2 linked regions of the Homo sapiens genome follow. The protein of the gene in region 2 interacts with the protein of the main gene of each other region in a pairwise test. Each region holds a gene or a part of one and is shown on either strand. Other genes may lie near its edges.

Evidence for each region. Proteins that work in one complex are often made in the same cells at the same time.
Region 1: the proteins of SS18L1 (region 2) and PAX8 interact in binary tests that used the Homo sapiens proteins (3 or more experiments, as listed by UniProt).

What each region holds. Positions count from the first base shown.
Region 1 is NC_000002.12:113,268,890-113,276,100, reverse strand, and holds part of PAX8 (paired box protein Pax-8), read left to right. Parts: intron 1-7,211. UniProt on the Homo sapiens protein: Transcription factor for the thyroid-specific expression of the genes exclusively expressed in the thyroid cell type, maintaining the functional differentiation of such cells.
Region 2 is NC_000020.11:62,167,712-62,174,922, forward strand, and holds part of SS18L1 (calcium-responsive transactivator), read left to right. Parts: intron 1-4,970; coding exon 4,971-5,090; intron 5,091-6,805; coding exon 6,806-6,933; coding exon of another isoform or gene 6,934-7,020; exon of another isoform or gene 7,021-7,211. UniProt on the Homo sapiens protein: Transcriptional activator which is required for calcium-dependent dendritic growth and branching in cortical neurons. Recruits CREB-binding protein (CREBBP) to nuclear bodies.

The DNA.
Region 1 (7,211 bases), on a different chromosome or scaffold from region 2:
TCTGTTCCTGAGACCGGCCGTGCTTAGGGAGCTCCCCTTGAGTTTTCTGTGAGCAGAGCCCGGGACGCAGGCGGCCACACGGCTTTCCGCGGGAGCGAGGCCGAGCGCACCCTTCCCAATAACCGGGGACGCTCGAGAAAACCTCCCCGCGCGGCCTCCGCCGCCCAGCCTGCCACGGGGTCGCCTCGTCGTTGGCTGGTCTTGCCTTGCAGAGAGTCTTAACGTTGTCTTTCCTACAGCTTTATTCTGCAGGAATGTTGAACGCGAATCATTTTAACGTGCGCAGGTCAGCGATGGGCTGAACGTTCCTTAAAATCGCTATTTTTGTTGCATCAGGGACGAAATTCTCTAAAGCAAAAACATTTTTAAAAAAATTCAAAGATGCAGAAGAAACGATAAATGCCCCATATATATAAAAGTGAAAACAATACTGTACCAATGAGGAAGAGAGTTTTGTAAAAGCAAGCAGGCTGGCTGTCATTAAAAGTTATCTTAAATAACTTGTCGCAGCCCACTCCCACCAGTCCCGAAAATAGTTCATTCAAGTGGTAAAATAAGACAAGGCAGAGGACGATGTCTCTAACTTCCCTGATGTGAGATCTAAAGCCCCATTCCTAACTCTTGGTTTTAGAATTGAGGAAAGTGGAATAAATGCATTTGGAAAGGATCTGTTTTCTTCCCAGGTTTCCTGCCTGGGTTGAAAATAAGGTTTCAGGGGATGGAAGCAACTTTGAGGAACATAAAGAGGTATTGGGGTTCATCAATTCATCTTTGTTTCAAGATGGTTCCCCCCCACCCTCCACAATGCAAGTTAATTAGGAGATAATTTAGCTACCTTGTGAATTAGTTTTAAGATAAGTATCTTTTTAAGCTTTGTCACTTTAATTGCCCCACTGATTGATAAGAAGTAATTATTTCTAATTGACACTTTTTTGATGTCTATTGGAAGCATTTATTTGGAACTTTTTGGGGGTGGAAGGAAAGTTAATTAATTTTATCAGTCTACCCCCAAAAGGACTCTGCCTAATTTTGTTGAAGAAGACAAAGGAAGTGAAGGAAACCAAATAAAAAATCAATCTCATGGAATTTTAATTACTAAGGGACACTTTGGTTTAAATTAGAGGGCATCTACTAATATAATATGTCAAAACGTTCTATTTATGGCCTCAAATCTCTAATTTATTGAGATGCATTTTATAGGTATTCATTTTCCTATGGATACACTCAACGGCCCTTTATATGCTTCCTTCATTTTGGAGCAGGTTCCTCTGCTGTGTAAATAATTTTTGTGAAAAGTAAAATCTGTCAAACTTGGTATGCCCAGAAAAAATGAAATCATTTTTGTAAGAGCCAATTGTAAGAAAGATTTACTAATAGTCATCCTTGTTCTGTAATTATTGATGGAGTTGGGTATAAAGGTGAAACTTTACTTACAGTGACTTGCCTTTTCATACCTAAACCTTGGAGTAAACAGTTTAATCATTCACATCCTCCAGAACATTTTGCTGTGAGAGAGAAAGGAGTGAAAGAATAAGGAGAAAAAGAAAGACACTGAAAGGAGGCAATGGGGGTGGAAAGGAAAGAAAGGGAGAAGGTAGCTGGAGAGAATAAAATGAAAGCATTCATTTCAGAAATGAAGATAGCCAGGTGCATGGAACCTTTGCCATTCAATATAAGAAAATTGAAATCCTGCTTTCAAAATACATTTTTGTTAACACCAAATCTCTACCACAGTCTCTAAGCAACCCCTAACCACCAAGGGATACCCCCAGTTTTCTACCCCTTAAAAAAAAAGAGGAGAATTTTAGGAAGCTGGCTGATCCGGATCTTGGATATCTGGCTGTCAAAGTCTTTATCTGGGGTCCATGAAAAGGAAGTAAGAAAACGCACATTGTGCTCTGGGATTTATAAAGAGATTCGAGTGTTGTTTATGTTTATTTTATTATTAAAGCCCCTGTGATCTTCATCTCCATTTTGTATGCACAATCTTTTCACAGATCGACTTGTGACTTATTGATATAGGAAAGCATTCCCACATTAACCCAAAGTAGAGACACACACACACGCACACACACGCACGTCTGGAATGAGAGAAACACAATCACACAGGACGCGTTCCTGTCAGGTTAATTTCAGCCAGTGCCTTTTTCAACCATTTATTGTAAAATCTTGCCTGCTTTTATTGATGTTTCTCCCTGATTATGTGGAGCTGCAAGAATGAGGAAATATTTTAAATGAAAAATAAATTTAAGACGTACAAACATCAGATAATATCACATACCAACCTCACTATTAGTGAAATTGAAAGAGTATATAAATAATGCAAAAAAAAATCAGCAAGGGAGAGTTTAGTAATGGAAAATTCCCTGCAATTAAATGAAACAGTAATTTAGTGAAGATATGCCTCAATGAATTAGCATTTATTAATTGGTTCTCATAAAAACAATTTGTGTGTGTGACTTGGGGAGGGGGATGTTTAAAGTATATATTGTCCAGAGATAAAGTTCCTCAAATATTCATATCAAATTATGTCGTTATCACATTCTATTTTGTGAGAAATCCCAAGTCTCTCACTGGCAAGTTACACCTGTACACAGAGAGCTTGAATGCAAAGGAAAGGATTCCCATCTAGATCAAAGAGTAAAGCTGGTTCCCACTTCTCTTGGTACATTTCCAAATGTGAAACGAATGAGGGACACACTGGCAGAGTCTTCTATGCTTAGGAACATCCAAACCGGGCCGCAAGAAGACTCCCTGAGGACCCAGCTCTTCTGGGGCACAGCTAGCTAAGCCAGAGCTAAGCCAGGGCTGGTTTGTGGTTCTGGTCCCCCAGCCTGCTCCAGCATCCTCTCCGGCTCAGGCAGGAACTGCAGTTTGTAATCTCAGCGAGGAGCTTGCTAGGGTTGACTGGTGCATGGATGTGTTTACTTTCTCTCGCCACAGTTGGTCTGTCTTCAGTTCTAAGCATTTTAAAGCTGCTCTATTTATCAGTCCAAGAAGTGCTGAGTTCTCCGTTGAGCTGAGAAGCTTTGAGCTCTATGGTTCTGAGTACACGAGAAGCCAAAAGATAAAAGAAACTGTTTCATTTAAGAAAAAAAATGTTTTAAAAAGTGGGGGCAGGGGAATGAATGAGCCCACCTTCAAGACTGCAGATTAGTTTTGCTTTTGTTTTAGTTGAAAACTTGGTGCACTGCCCCCCTTCGGGTCCTCATTCTCTTCAGAGATAGAATTTAGTATTGAAAACACCCTCTAAGAGAGGAGAATATGCCCTCACGTTATCTTCTCTTAGAGGGTGTAGAGTTCTTTGCGGGAGGGATTCTTTCCAAATGCAGATTGGAACACCTTCTTCGCCCAGGTTCTTCTGGGGAGGGAGCTAACACATTCTGCCTAGGAAATGCAGGCAATGACTACTTTCAGCAGGAGTTCTAGACATTCCTTTCGTGGGGAAGGAGTACAGAGCATGACAATCCAGGAGTCTCTTGGCTCCTGAAAACTCCACTCTGCCACACCAATCCTAGTTCATCCAGTCAGTGGTCAGTGACCCTGGGATGGATGGAATCTCTGCAGTGAGGTGGAGTAGGAAGAAGCATCCACTCGTCTTTGTTTATCTACAGTAATGACACTTTTAAATGGATCTTGAGGATTCATAATTATTTCCTTAGGTCCAGAGTTAGGGCTGACAAGACTGTTTGGGTTGCTGAAAGCCCCTCTAGACCCCTTCGTTGGCCAGATAGAAATACAATGAGCAAATTTCTCTTATATAAGCCACTGGCCAGAAAAATATTCATAGGAAGGCTTCTGTCTTAAACCTGTAATTCATGTAACTGAGTCTGGGCTTTACCTTGCTTGGCTGGTGGGGGTCCTTCCCCAGGAATGAGTCTCGATAGAAACCAGCATCTGTTTACTGAGGCATGTCTAAGATCAAGGGGAAGAAAGTCCAAGAGTCCCCGAAGGATACTTGGGTTCTGTTTCTGTGTTTCTTCCCGTGGACCCTCCATAGTCCTGAATGCCATATAAGATGCCAGCAATCCCTGTGGCTCAGCCAAGCCAGCCTCACAGCTCCTCCTGCTCTGCCCATGTCACATTTACATCCAAAGAAAAAGAACGTCTGCACAAGAGCTGAGCATACCTGGCACTTAGTGAGCTCTCAATGAATGAAAGCTGTGATTCTTCTCTCTGAGGACTGCCACAGGTGTGGTGTGGTGCTGAGAGCAGATGTATTCATCATCTCATTTAATTCTCACAACTCTGCCAGGCAGGTATTGCTACGACATTTTTATAGAAGAGAGGGGAAGGAACTGGTGTTCAAAGAGGTTGATAAGACTCCAATTCCCCTTTCCACTGCTCCCTACCTCAACCACCCAAAGTCCAGCTCATCAGAACTCGGCTACTAGATGATCGACACCTGGAATCCTAGTGGAAACTCCCATCAGAACCCTTGATAAGAAGGCCCAAGTGCCCGTGCTGGCAGTGACAGGCAGAGCCTTCCGTCTATCAGCTTGCTTTCCTCATCAGTGTTCCCCACTCTCCAGTTTAATTAAAATACACCCCTTTCCAGTATGGTTCTCAGTCTTCCCATCTGTGAAATGGAGAAGTGGTTCCTGCCTGGATGCCTCTCCTAGAAGTAGCTATGAGAAGGAAGGAGATGATCAGCCACTTGGAAAGGCAGAGGGAGGGAGGCCTTACTTTCACACATCCCCCCAAGGCTGCCGTGTCTCCATCTGCACTGGAAAAAAAGCAGCTATCCTCAGGCACCACAAGTTGAAGGACCCTGGGGAACTTACTTCCCTAACTTGGCATCTCCCAAGCACACTCAGCCTCCCTGCCTAGGTTCATCTTGGATGTGATGCGAACAGCTTCAGAGTGGCTGGGGAGGCTTCCCCATGCTGTTAGGGGCCAGCACTGGGGGCCCCATCCACAGGCAGCATAGCTAGGAGTGGTGGCCACTGGAGGTGCCGGTTGTTATGTCCCAAAGCTTAGGTTCATCCCCTCTGCCACTTCCTCAGGATCCCTCTCACTCAGGGGCTTAAAAGCAAGGCATTTCTCTTTTGGAGCCTCTGCAGAGGTTCAGTTTTAGAACGTTAGCTTGAAAGAAAGGGATTTTATTTTAATGTTTTCACTTTTTCATGTAGAAAGTAGCTGCTTAGCTCCCGGGCTCTCAGATGAAAACCTCTCTTTGGTTTAAGCAGAGGGAGAGATTGAGAAAGAAAAAATAATTCATTCCTCCCTGCTTTTAACTTTTTTTCGTCATCTTCAGCCACAATACTCATTGGTTTTGTCTTTTTTATTTGTCTTCTTAAATGGCCTTGGGGTGACATGGGTAGTTAGTGCTAATTAGTCCACTAGGACATATTGTGACTGTCAGGGCAGCACAGCAGAAGGGTCCAGGAGCTGGTTGGGTGACGCACCTAAGAGAGAAATGGCTTAATCTGCTGTCATCGGTGTGTACTACAGTGTTCGCGCACACCCAGGCCCTCTGTGTGTTGCAGTTTTGATTCTTCGGCATCTCCAGGAGGACAGTAGAACTTATTATTCTTGGGATAAACTCAGGGGCCATGAGGTGTCAAGAGAATGAGAGGCTTTTGAAATCAGCGTGAAGCCAGGATGAAAGCCCCTGCCCTGCAGGCAGAAGAAGAAGGCAAAGCCCGGGCTTCCATCTTGGCCCAGACCTTGCTGTTTTTGTGTGAACTTAGTCAAGTCAGATGTCTCTCTGGGCTTGTACTTCCCCTTTATAAAATATGGGGATGCTGCAGGGCTTCTGGGGAGTCATGTGAGTAAAACCTGTCTCCTCACCTGGCACATAGCTGCCACTCAAGACAATTTTCTGTGCTCCATGTAGTAGTCACCAAGGAGTGGAGTCTCCAGAACACATTCCCAAAGTCCCATTGTCGTAGTATTTCCTGTGAAACAGCCACCAGTAACTTGCAACCCAGTACTTCGTTCCATTTAAAATTTAGGACAGACTTTTCAATAATTCATGTGGACAAAATAATAGATCTACCACCTAGGAGTACTGGGATTAAATGAAGGGACGCATAGAAAGTGCTGGCTATGACCTCTGCGGCTGTTATCTGCTGTTACCACAGCCTGAAATGGAAAAGGATGCCTTAGTTCACCTTACCAGAAAACCCAGTCATAGGGAAAACACTAAGCTTTTGATAGAATGGCTGTCTGTGGACTGTGTGTTGAAATCCAGAACATTCTAAGGGTTTAATAGAGTTGGTCTTTGAGCAAAAATGAGCTCAAGTGGGTTTGCAGTTATGCTGTGTGTGCGGCTAAGACAGGACTGCAGGAAGACTTGCCTGGGGTACTTGTTTTTAATTGACACGGAATCATATATTTATTTTTAAAAAATTAAATCCACGTATCCTCCACCTTCTGCTTTCTTCTCTCTCCCTCCCTCCCCACCTGCCTCTGTCTCACAATTTTCTACTTTGGGTAATAATAATCCAGCTTTGGCCTGATAGCAAACCCTGGTTGACATTTAAAAGTCTCTGTGATTAGCTGAGCACCAAATCTCTGACTTAAGCTTTGCTTTGCTCCTTTGCTTCAACACTGAGCAAGGTAGAAGGCACCTCTACAGGGCAGGGAGCTGGAGTCTTGCTCTTCCCTTTCAAGAAGGCAGACCCGCAGAACCAGGAGGAAGAATGATCAGACAAAACAACTCAGTGGTAGGAAAAGGACTGAACACTAACAACCCATTCGGCAGGAGCACCAAAGTTCATTTTTCTTGAACAGTCACCCCAGCACAACTATGTTGTGGCTGTTGACAGGTAAACCCCATCTGGCTTTCTCCAGTCTGCTCCTCATTGTTCCAGAGCCAGTGTGCTCCATGACGGTCTACACTGGGGCTCCATCTCAGGGCTGCTGGACAGTTTGTGGCAAAATGTGGCAGGGCTGTAGGTAGAAGTGCCATGGAGATACTTCTGCCAAATGAAAATGCTTACTGGACACTTCCAATGCCTAGGCTCCATGCCTTCACAGATATGCAAACTTTCCCCTCTGTAGGCCTTACATCTCTTTGGCAGTATGAAAAGACCTGGGTCCTTCGAGCCTTGGGGACCTTCCTGGGCCCCCCATATTCCCTGGGGACATGGCAGTACCCCATACCAGGAAGGTCCCCATGGCCCATGGCCCACCCCCACTGCTGGCCATGGGGCTGTCTAGACAGGTGCCCCACACTGTGACAGGCCTGCCTGGGCCTCAGGGCT
Region 2 (7,211 bases):
TCCATGGCGAGGTGTCCACATGCGTCTGCCCAAGGCTGCCACACTTTGTCCCAAAAACAAACGCAGGATGTGCTGCTCAGCCTTTTAGTGTCTGATGTAGCTACTTTTTTTTTTTTTTTAAAGAGACAGGGTCTTGCCCTATCACCTAGGCTGGAGTGCAGTGGCCTGATCGTGGCACACTGCAGCCTGGAAATCCCAGGCTCAAGTGATCCTCCTGCTTCAGCCTCTCGAATTGCTGGGACTAAAGGCATGCACCACCAGGCCTGGCTTTTTTTTTTTTTTTTTTTTTTTTAATTTTTGTAGAGATAAGGTCTTGCCATGTTGCCCAGGCTGGTTTTGAACTCCTGGGCTCAAGTGCCACCTCAGCCTCCTACAGTGCAGGGGCTCCAGGTGTGCGCCATTGTGCCTGGCTGATAGGTACTTCCGTAGCTTGTTGTGGGTTAGGTACTCTTGCCTTCCATCATTGATGAGAAATTTGCTGAAAAGCTTAGTAACCTCTTAAGGCCAGTAAGACAGATGGTGTGGTTTCCTCCTTGATTTAGAAGCATTTTATTCCATCTGTTTGTTAGACTCTGACATGAGGAGTGCACATACATGGTGACACTTTACCCTACAGCAGGTGGTACTGTGAAGTCTTGCAGGGGTGAGAGGCCTGGAGATGCTTTGCTTTGAAGAGATTGGCGGATGTGTCATAGCCACCTTCAAACACAACTGTGGCCCATGGTGCAGTGGAGAGGCTGGGGGGACGTTAGGAGGAATGGGTCAAAGGCACCATAAAGAACTTTCCAGGCCGGGTGCAGTGGCTCCCACCTGTGATCCCAGCATCAGGCCAGGTGCAGTGGCTCCCACCTGTGATCCCAGCATTGTGGGGGCCAGGGCAGAGGATCACGTGAGCCTGAGAGGTCGAGACCAGCCTAGGCAACATAGTAAGACCCCCTCTCTACTAAAAAACATTAGCCAGGTGTGGTGGCATGCGCCTGTTGTCCCAGCTACTTGGGAGGCTGAGGCAGGAGCATAGCTTGAGCCCGGGAGGTCGAAGCTGTACTTAACTATGATCACACCACTGCGCTCCAGCCTTGGCAACAGAGCAAGACCCTGTCTCAAAAATAAAAAGAATTTTCCAACTTTTGAGTCATCCCACAGCAGGATGAGTGGGACAGGCTGGTGCTGGAATTGTTCCTGGTGACGGCATCAGTCAGGAGCCTGCAGAATCTGATAAAACGAGAGGGTGTTCATGCGCAGGGCACCAGTAATAGGAGGGGACCAGAGTGGGGCTGACCAAGCCAGGAGGGGACAGCGGGGGCCACGGGGTCACTTGTGCTGGGCAGGAGCATCGGGATGTGGTGCTCGGTGGGGGAGGGGCCAGGAGAGGGTGCGAGTCCCGCGTTCGCGTCACAGTGAGGTTTGCAGTGACGCATACTGGACAGAGCGCAGCCCCTCGTGACCTGGCATCTGGGCGCCATTGCTGCTAGGAGAGACCGCCCATGAGCTGCCAAAGCCAAGTATGGAGCTGGGCGCATGGGATGTGCCTCTGTGAAAATGCAGGCAAGAGGAGACTGTGCCCTTGCACACACGCACACTCACACCGTCAGCCAATGGACAAACACCAAAACAACCAACACAAATGCTTCCGGGTAGGAGATGGGGTTAGGGCTCAGGCAGTCCAGAGCAGGGGTGGAAGCGGCCACCTTCCCAGGACCTCTTGAAGGTATGAGTCCGTCTGTATGTACCTTTGAATCATGTAGATGTATTGGCAGCTTCAGAAGTTAAATTAAACATCATTGGGGCCGGGCAGAGTGGCTCACGCCTGTAATCTCAGCACTCTGGGAGGCTGAGGCGGGTGGATCACTTGAGATCAGTAGTTTGAGACTAGCCTGGCCACCATGGTGAAACCCCATCTCGACCAAAAATACAAAAACTAGCTGGGCTTGGTGGCGCATGTCTGTAAAGCCAGCTGCTTGTGAGGCTGAGGTATGAGAATCACTTGAACCCAGGAGGCAGAGGTAGCAGTGAGCCAAGATCACGCAACTGCACTCCAGCCTGGGGCGGCAAAGCGAGACTCCATCTCCAAAAAAAAAAAAGGAACATCATTGGCTGTCACAGAAACTGAAAGGACCTCACTTTATGGCTGTCCACACCGTCCACACCTCCTGGAGTCCCGAGCGCGGCTGGCGTGTCGTGTGCATTTCTCAGGCCCTCGCCAGGTGGTGACCAGCGTGTCCCAGGAGTGGACGACAGGGTGGTGTGGCCGGGGCCTGTGGGACTCATCTTCCCTGGGCAGTGCTGGGGCCGCCTTGGCTGCGTCCTCGTGTGGATCACTGTGTTTTTATGTGACACGGCTTTGAGCGTCGTTCACATGTTCCTCGTGGCTCATTGTGTCCACATCTTGCTCCTTCTGAGGAAGCAGAGGGTGTGCCGTGGCCTCTTGTTTCACACACAGATGCGCCATGCTGCCCGGCACCTTCTCACGGGCACCCCGCAGAATGCCAGAGGATTCTTAGAGAAAGAAAAGAGCTGGGCACGGTGGCTCACGCCTGTAATCTCAGCACTTTGGGAGGCCGGGGCAGGCGGATCACGAGGTCAGGAGATCGAGACCATCGTGGCTAACACGGTGAAACCCCGTCTCTACTAAAAATAGAAAAAAATTAGCTGGGCGTGGTGGCGGGCGCCTGTTGTCCCAGCTACTCAGGAGGCCGAGGCAGGAGAATGGCGTGAACCCCGGAGGCAGAGCTTGCAGTGAGCCGAGATTGTGCCACTGCACTCCAGCCTGGGTGACAGAGCGAGACTCCATCTCGAAAAGAAAAGAAAGAACCCTGGAGTACTTGCTGGTTGTGGAGGAAGGCCCCACATCTGCCCGCCCCGTTGCTGTCCTGTTGAGAGCACGGCCTGGGCTCCCCCGAGCCCTGCAGATTTCATGCAACACATCTGAAAACGGCAAAGGCCTTTTCCACAGATGTCGTGCCCCCTTTCCCTGCAGTTATCTCAGCAGCCCCCTTTCTTTGGGGATAGGGCGGCTGCTGCCAGTTCCCACTAGATCGCCTGAGCACCCACTGGGGTGTGAGAGCCAGGCCTGGTCCCTGTGTGCTGGGGCTGGGTGTTCTGAGCTGGCACTCTCACAGTTGTTGCATACCTGCTGGGTGCCAGGGCAAAGCTGGCCCGTTTCCTACAAACTGGCTCCTTTATTTTTTTTTTTTGTTTATGTTTTTTTGAGATGGAGTCTCACTCTATCGCCCAGGCTGGAGTGCAGTGATGCGATCTCGGCTCACTGCAACCTCCTCCTCCTGGGTTCACACCATTCTCCTGCCTCAGCCTCCCGAGTAGCTGGGACTACAGGCTCCCGCCACCATGCCGGGCTAAATTTTTTGTATTTTTAGTAGAGACGGGGTTTCACCATGTTAGCCAGGATGATCTCGATCTCCTGACCTTGTGATCCACCCGCCTCGGCCTCCCAAAGTGCTGGGATTACAGGCGTGAGCCACCGCACCCGGCCACAAACTGGCTCCTTTATTATGTAAAGAATAAAGTGGGCTATAAAACATGAGAATATGCAGGCTGACCCCCAAAAGCCTGACACCCTTGAAAACCCACTCCCCCATGTCTCAGATGGCTTTCATGGGGGCAGGAGAAAGGATAGTGACCTTAAGTCTTCTCCCGTGACGGTGACAGCTCGTTTGCCAGCTGTTGCTGGAACCGGCCCTGGATTTAGAGGAAGGCGTGGAAGTTCAAGACTCAAGATACTTCCTGGATAGAGAATAACTGGAAAGGCTCAAGTAAGTTTTTCCGAAGCTCTCGCCTTAGGAGGAGTTCAGCCTGGAATAAGAGCGTGTGTTAGTTTTGTCATCCCACCTAACTACAGATTGAATTACCCTGATAGGTTTTTAAGCCATTCCAGTGTGCATTATCTCAATAAAGCTGTTATTTAAAAAAAATACTAGATTGCAGTTTTAAAATACTTAAATTTTACAGCTTCTAAAAAAGGAAAGTTATTTCCAACCAGAAAAGTAAAGTAGAAAATGGATTCTTTGCGCAGAGCATGGTGGCTTACGCCTGTAATCCCAGCACTTTGGAAGGCAGGGGCAGCAGGATTGCTTGAGGCCAAGAGTTCGAGACCAGCCTGGGCAACATAGAGAGACCCTGTCTCTACAAAAGATTTAAAATTACCTGGGCATGGTCGGGCACCGTGGCTCACGCCTGTAATCCTAGCACTTTAGGAGGCCAAGGTGAACGGATCACAAGGTCAGGAGATCGAGACCATCCTGGCTAACATGGTGAAACTTCATCTCTACTAAAAATACAAAAAATTAGCCTGGCGTTGTGGCGGGCACCTGTAGTCCCAGCTACTCGGGAGGCTGAGGCAGGAGAATGGCGTGAACCCGGGTGGGGCGGAGCTTGCACTGAGCTGAGATCTCGCCACTGCACTCCAGCCTGGGCAACAGAGCGAAACTCCATCTCAAAAAAAAAAAAAAATTATCTGGGCACGCTGGCACACACTGTAGTCCTAGCTACTTGGGAGGCTGAAGTGAGAGGAACACTTGAGCCAGGGAGATGGAGGCTGCAGTGTGCCCTCATTGCACCACTGCACTCCAGCCTGGGTCCCAGAGCGAGGCCCTGTCTCTGAAAAAAAAAAAAAAAATTATATCTGCAAAGACCCTATGTCCAAATAAGGTTCCATTCACAGGTACTTGGAGTTAGGACATCAGCATCTCTCTGGGGAGCACATTTGACCCGCGACGCTGGCGTTCATCTCTGTCTTAGTTGTCATATTAACCATTTCGTTTCTTAGCTTTCCATTTGTATTTCTATAAGATAAAGGTGTAGTATAGTATTTGAATGGTTGTGAAAAAATAAACATGCCGAAGCAATGGATTTGGTTTTGGGATTCCAAAGTTACCGTGTCGTGAGTGGGCCACAGAATGAGCCCCCTTAGCCCAGGTGGGGAAAGTCATTTCTGTGTCTCCTCCTCCCTCCAGGAAACTCCCAGTACAGCCAGCAGCAGGCCGGGTACCAGCAGGGTGCCGCGCAGCAGCAGACGTACTCCCAGCAGCAGTACCCCAGCCAGCAGAGCTACCCCGGGCAGCAGCAGGGCTACGGTAAGAGGCGAGCACGGTCCTCGGGGCCCCCCAGCGCCCACCCCTGCCCCTGCCACACATGGGTACGTGCTCAGTACCCCAGCCAGCAGAGCTACCCTGGGCAGCAGCAGGGCTACGGTAAGAGGCGAGCACGCTCCTCGGGGCCCCCCAGCGCCCACCCCTGCCCCTGCCACATGTGGGTACGTGCCCGGTGACCCTGGTGCTCAGGCAGATGTGTAATAAACTTATTTTGAATACCTTTAGGTTTCCAGAAAAGTTGGAAACATCCATGCACGTAGACCTGAAACATCTTATTTTAACTTAAACATAAATTCATTGCCCACGTGGCCTGTGACGGGAGCCAGTGTCCCGTGTATCCATCACCTGCACGCCTCAGGCCCAGCTTCAACCTCTTTGACAGAGCAGGTCAAAGCCTGTGGGTCTCAGCCTTCACTGCAGCTTACAATCACCCAGGAAACTTCTGAAAAATAAGGTGTGGGCTGCCCCAGGTCTTTTGTTGGAGCAAGATCTCAGTTCTCAGGATGAGCTCCACACACGTGGTTTCTTATGAGGCACGTGCCTGATTCTGCTGTGCTTATTCAGCCCTTTACAGCCATTACTAATTAAATAGTATAAAAATTACTTGAGGCCAGGCGTGGTGGCTCACGCCTATAATCCCAGCACTTTGGGAGGCTGAGGTGGGCGGATGACCTGAGGTCAGGGGTTCAAGACCAGCCTGACCAATATGGTGAAACCTCGTCTCTACTAAAAATACAAAAATTAGCTGGGCATGGTGGTGGGGGCCTATAGTCCCAGCTACTCAGGAGATGAGACAGGAGAATTGCTTGAACCAGGAGGTAGAGGTCGCAGTGAGCCGAGATCACACCACTACACTTCAGCCTAGGCGATAGAGTGAGACGACTCCTCAAAAAATAAAAAAATAAATTACTTGAGGCTCAGTGTGGTGGCTCATGTCTATAATCCCAGCACTTTGGGAGGCTGAGGCAGGAGGATTGCTTGAGCCCAGGAGTTCGAGACCAGCCTGGATGACATAGTGAGACCATCTCTACAAAAAATACAAAAATTAGCCAGGCATGGTGGCACACTCCTGTGGTCCCAGCTACTTGGGAGGCTGAGGCAGGAGAATCACTTGAGCCTGGGAGGTGGAGGTTGCGGTGAGCCAAGATCACGCCACTGCACTCCAGCCTGGCTTGGGTGACAGAGTGACACCCTGCCTAAAAAAAAAAAAAAAAATTGGCCTCTATCAGTTCTTGCCGGAGCCTTTGACTTAGCCTTCCTAGAGACGATGTCTCTGTCTCACCTGCCTGCAGGTTTTCAGCAGCTCCCGTGGTAGTTCAGTGACAAGTTACAGCAGCCAGTGTGACTGGGGCCAGCGGGTTCTGGAGGGCTGTCCTGCCTTCAGGTAGCAGCAGTTCTGGGGTGATGGAGAGAGCCCATCAGCCCTCGCCATGCTGGTGGGGGGCCTGGGGCACAGTCCTGGGACCTCACAGGACTGGAGGGGCTGGTGAGTCGGTTACGTGGTGCTCTCGCTGTACAGAGTTAACGTGGAGCCACGTGCAGGTGCCAGGTGTTCTGGAGATTGACAAAAGGCTGATGCATTGAGACGGGAATTTTTCAAGGAGAAGAGGAAGTTTTAAAAAAAATTTTTAAGTTAAGAAAAAAAAAGAAAGAGGTGTCCGTTTTGGCCGGCCTCACGGTTCCTGGTGTCTTCTCAGGGTCTGCCCAGGGAGCCCCGTCACAGTACCCCGGCTACCAGCAAGGCCAAGGCCAGCAGTACGGAAGCTACCGAGCACCGCAGACAGCGCCGTCTGCCCAGCAGCAGCGGCCCTACGGCTATGAACAGGCAAGCTTTCTGGATGTTTCCAGATGTGCCCATCCGCCGCGCCTGTCGAGACATAATGAAGATTTCTCTTATGGCCATGAGGAATAATGAGCTGGAACTAACTGGCTTCCAGGGTTCCTTCCAGAACGTTAAGTCTCTGAGCCTGTAAGGTTTTGCAGAATTGCCTCTGTGTATACGCTCACCTCAGTCATCCAGCTGGCTTTTCATACCCTAAGCTCACCGTTAGATCTGCACGCCTGGTTCTCACATTCATTCACTCTGCCAGTGTTTGTCACGTA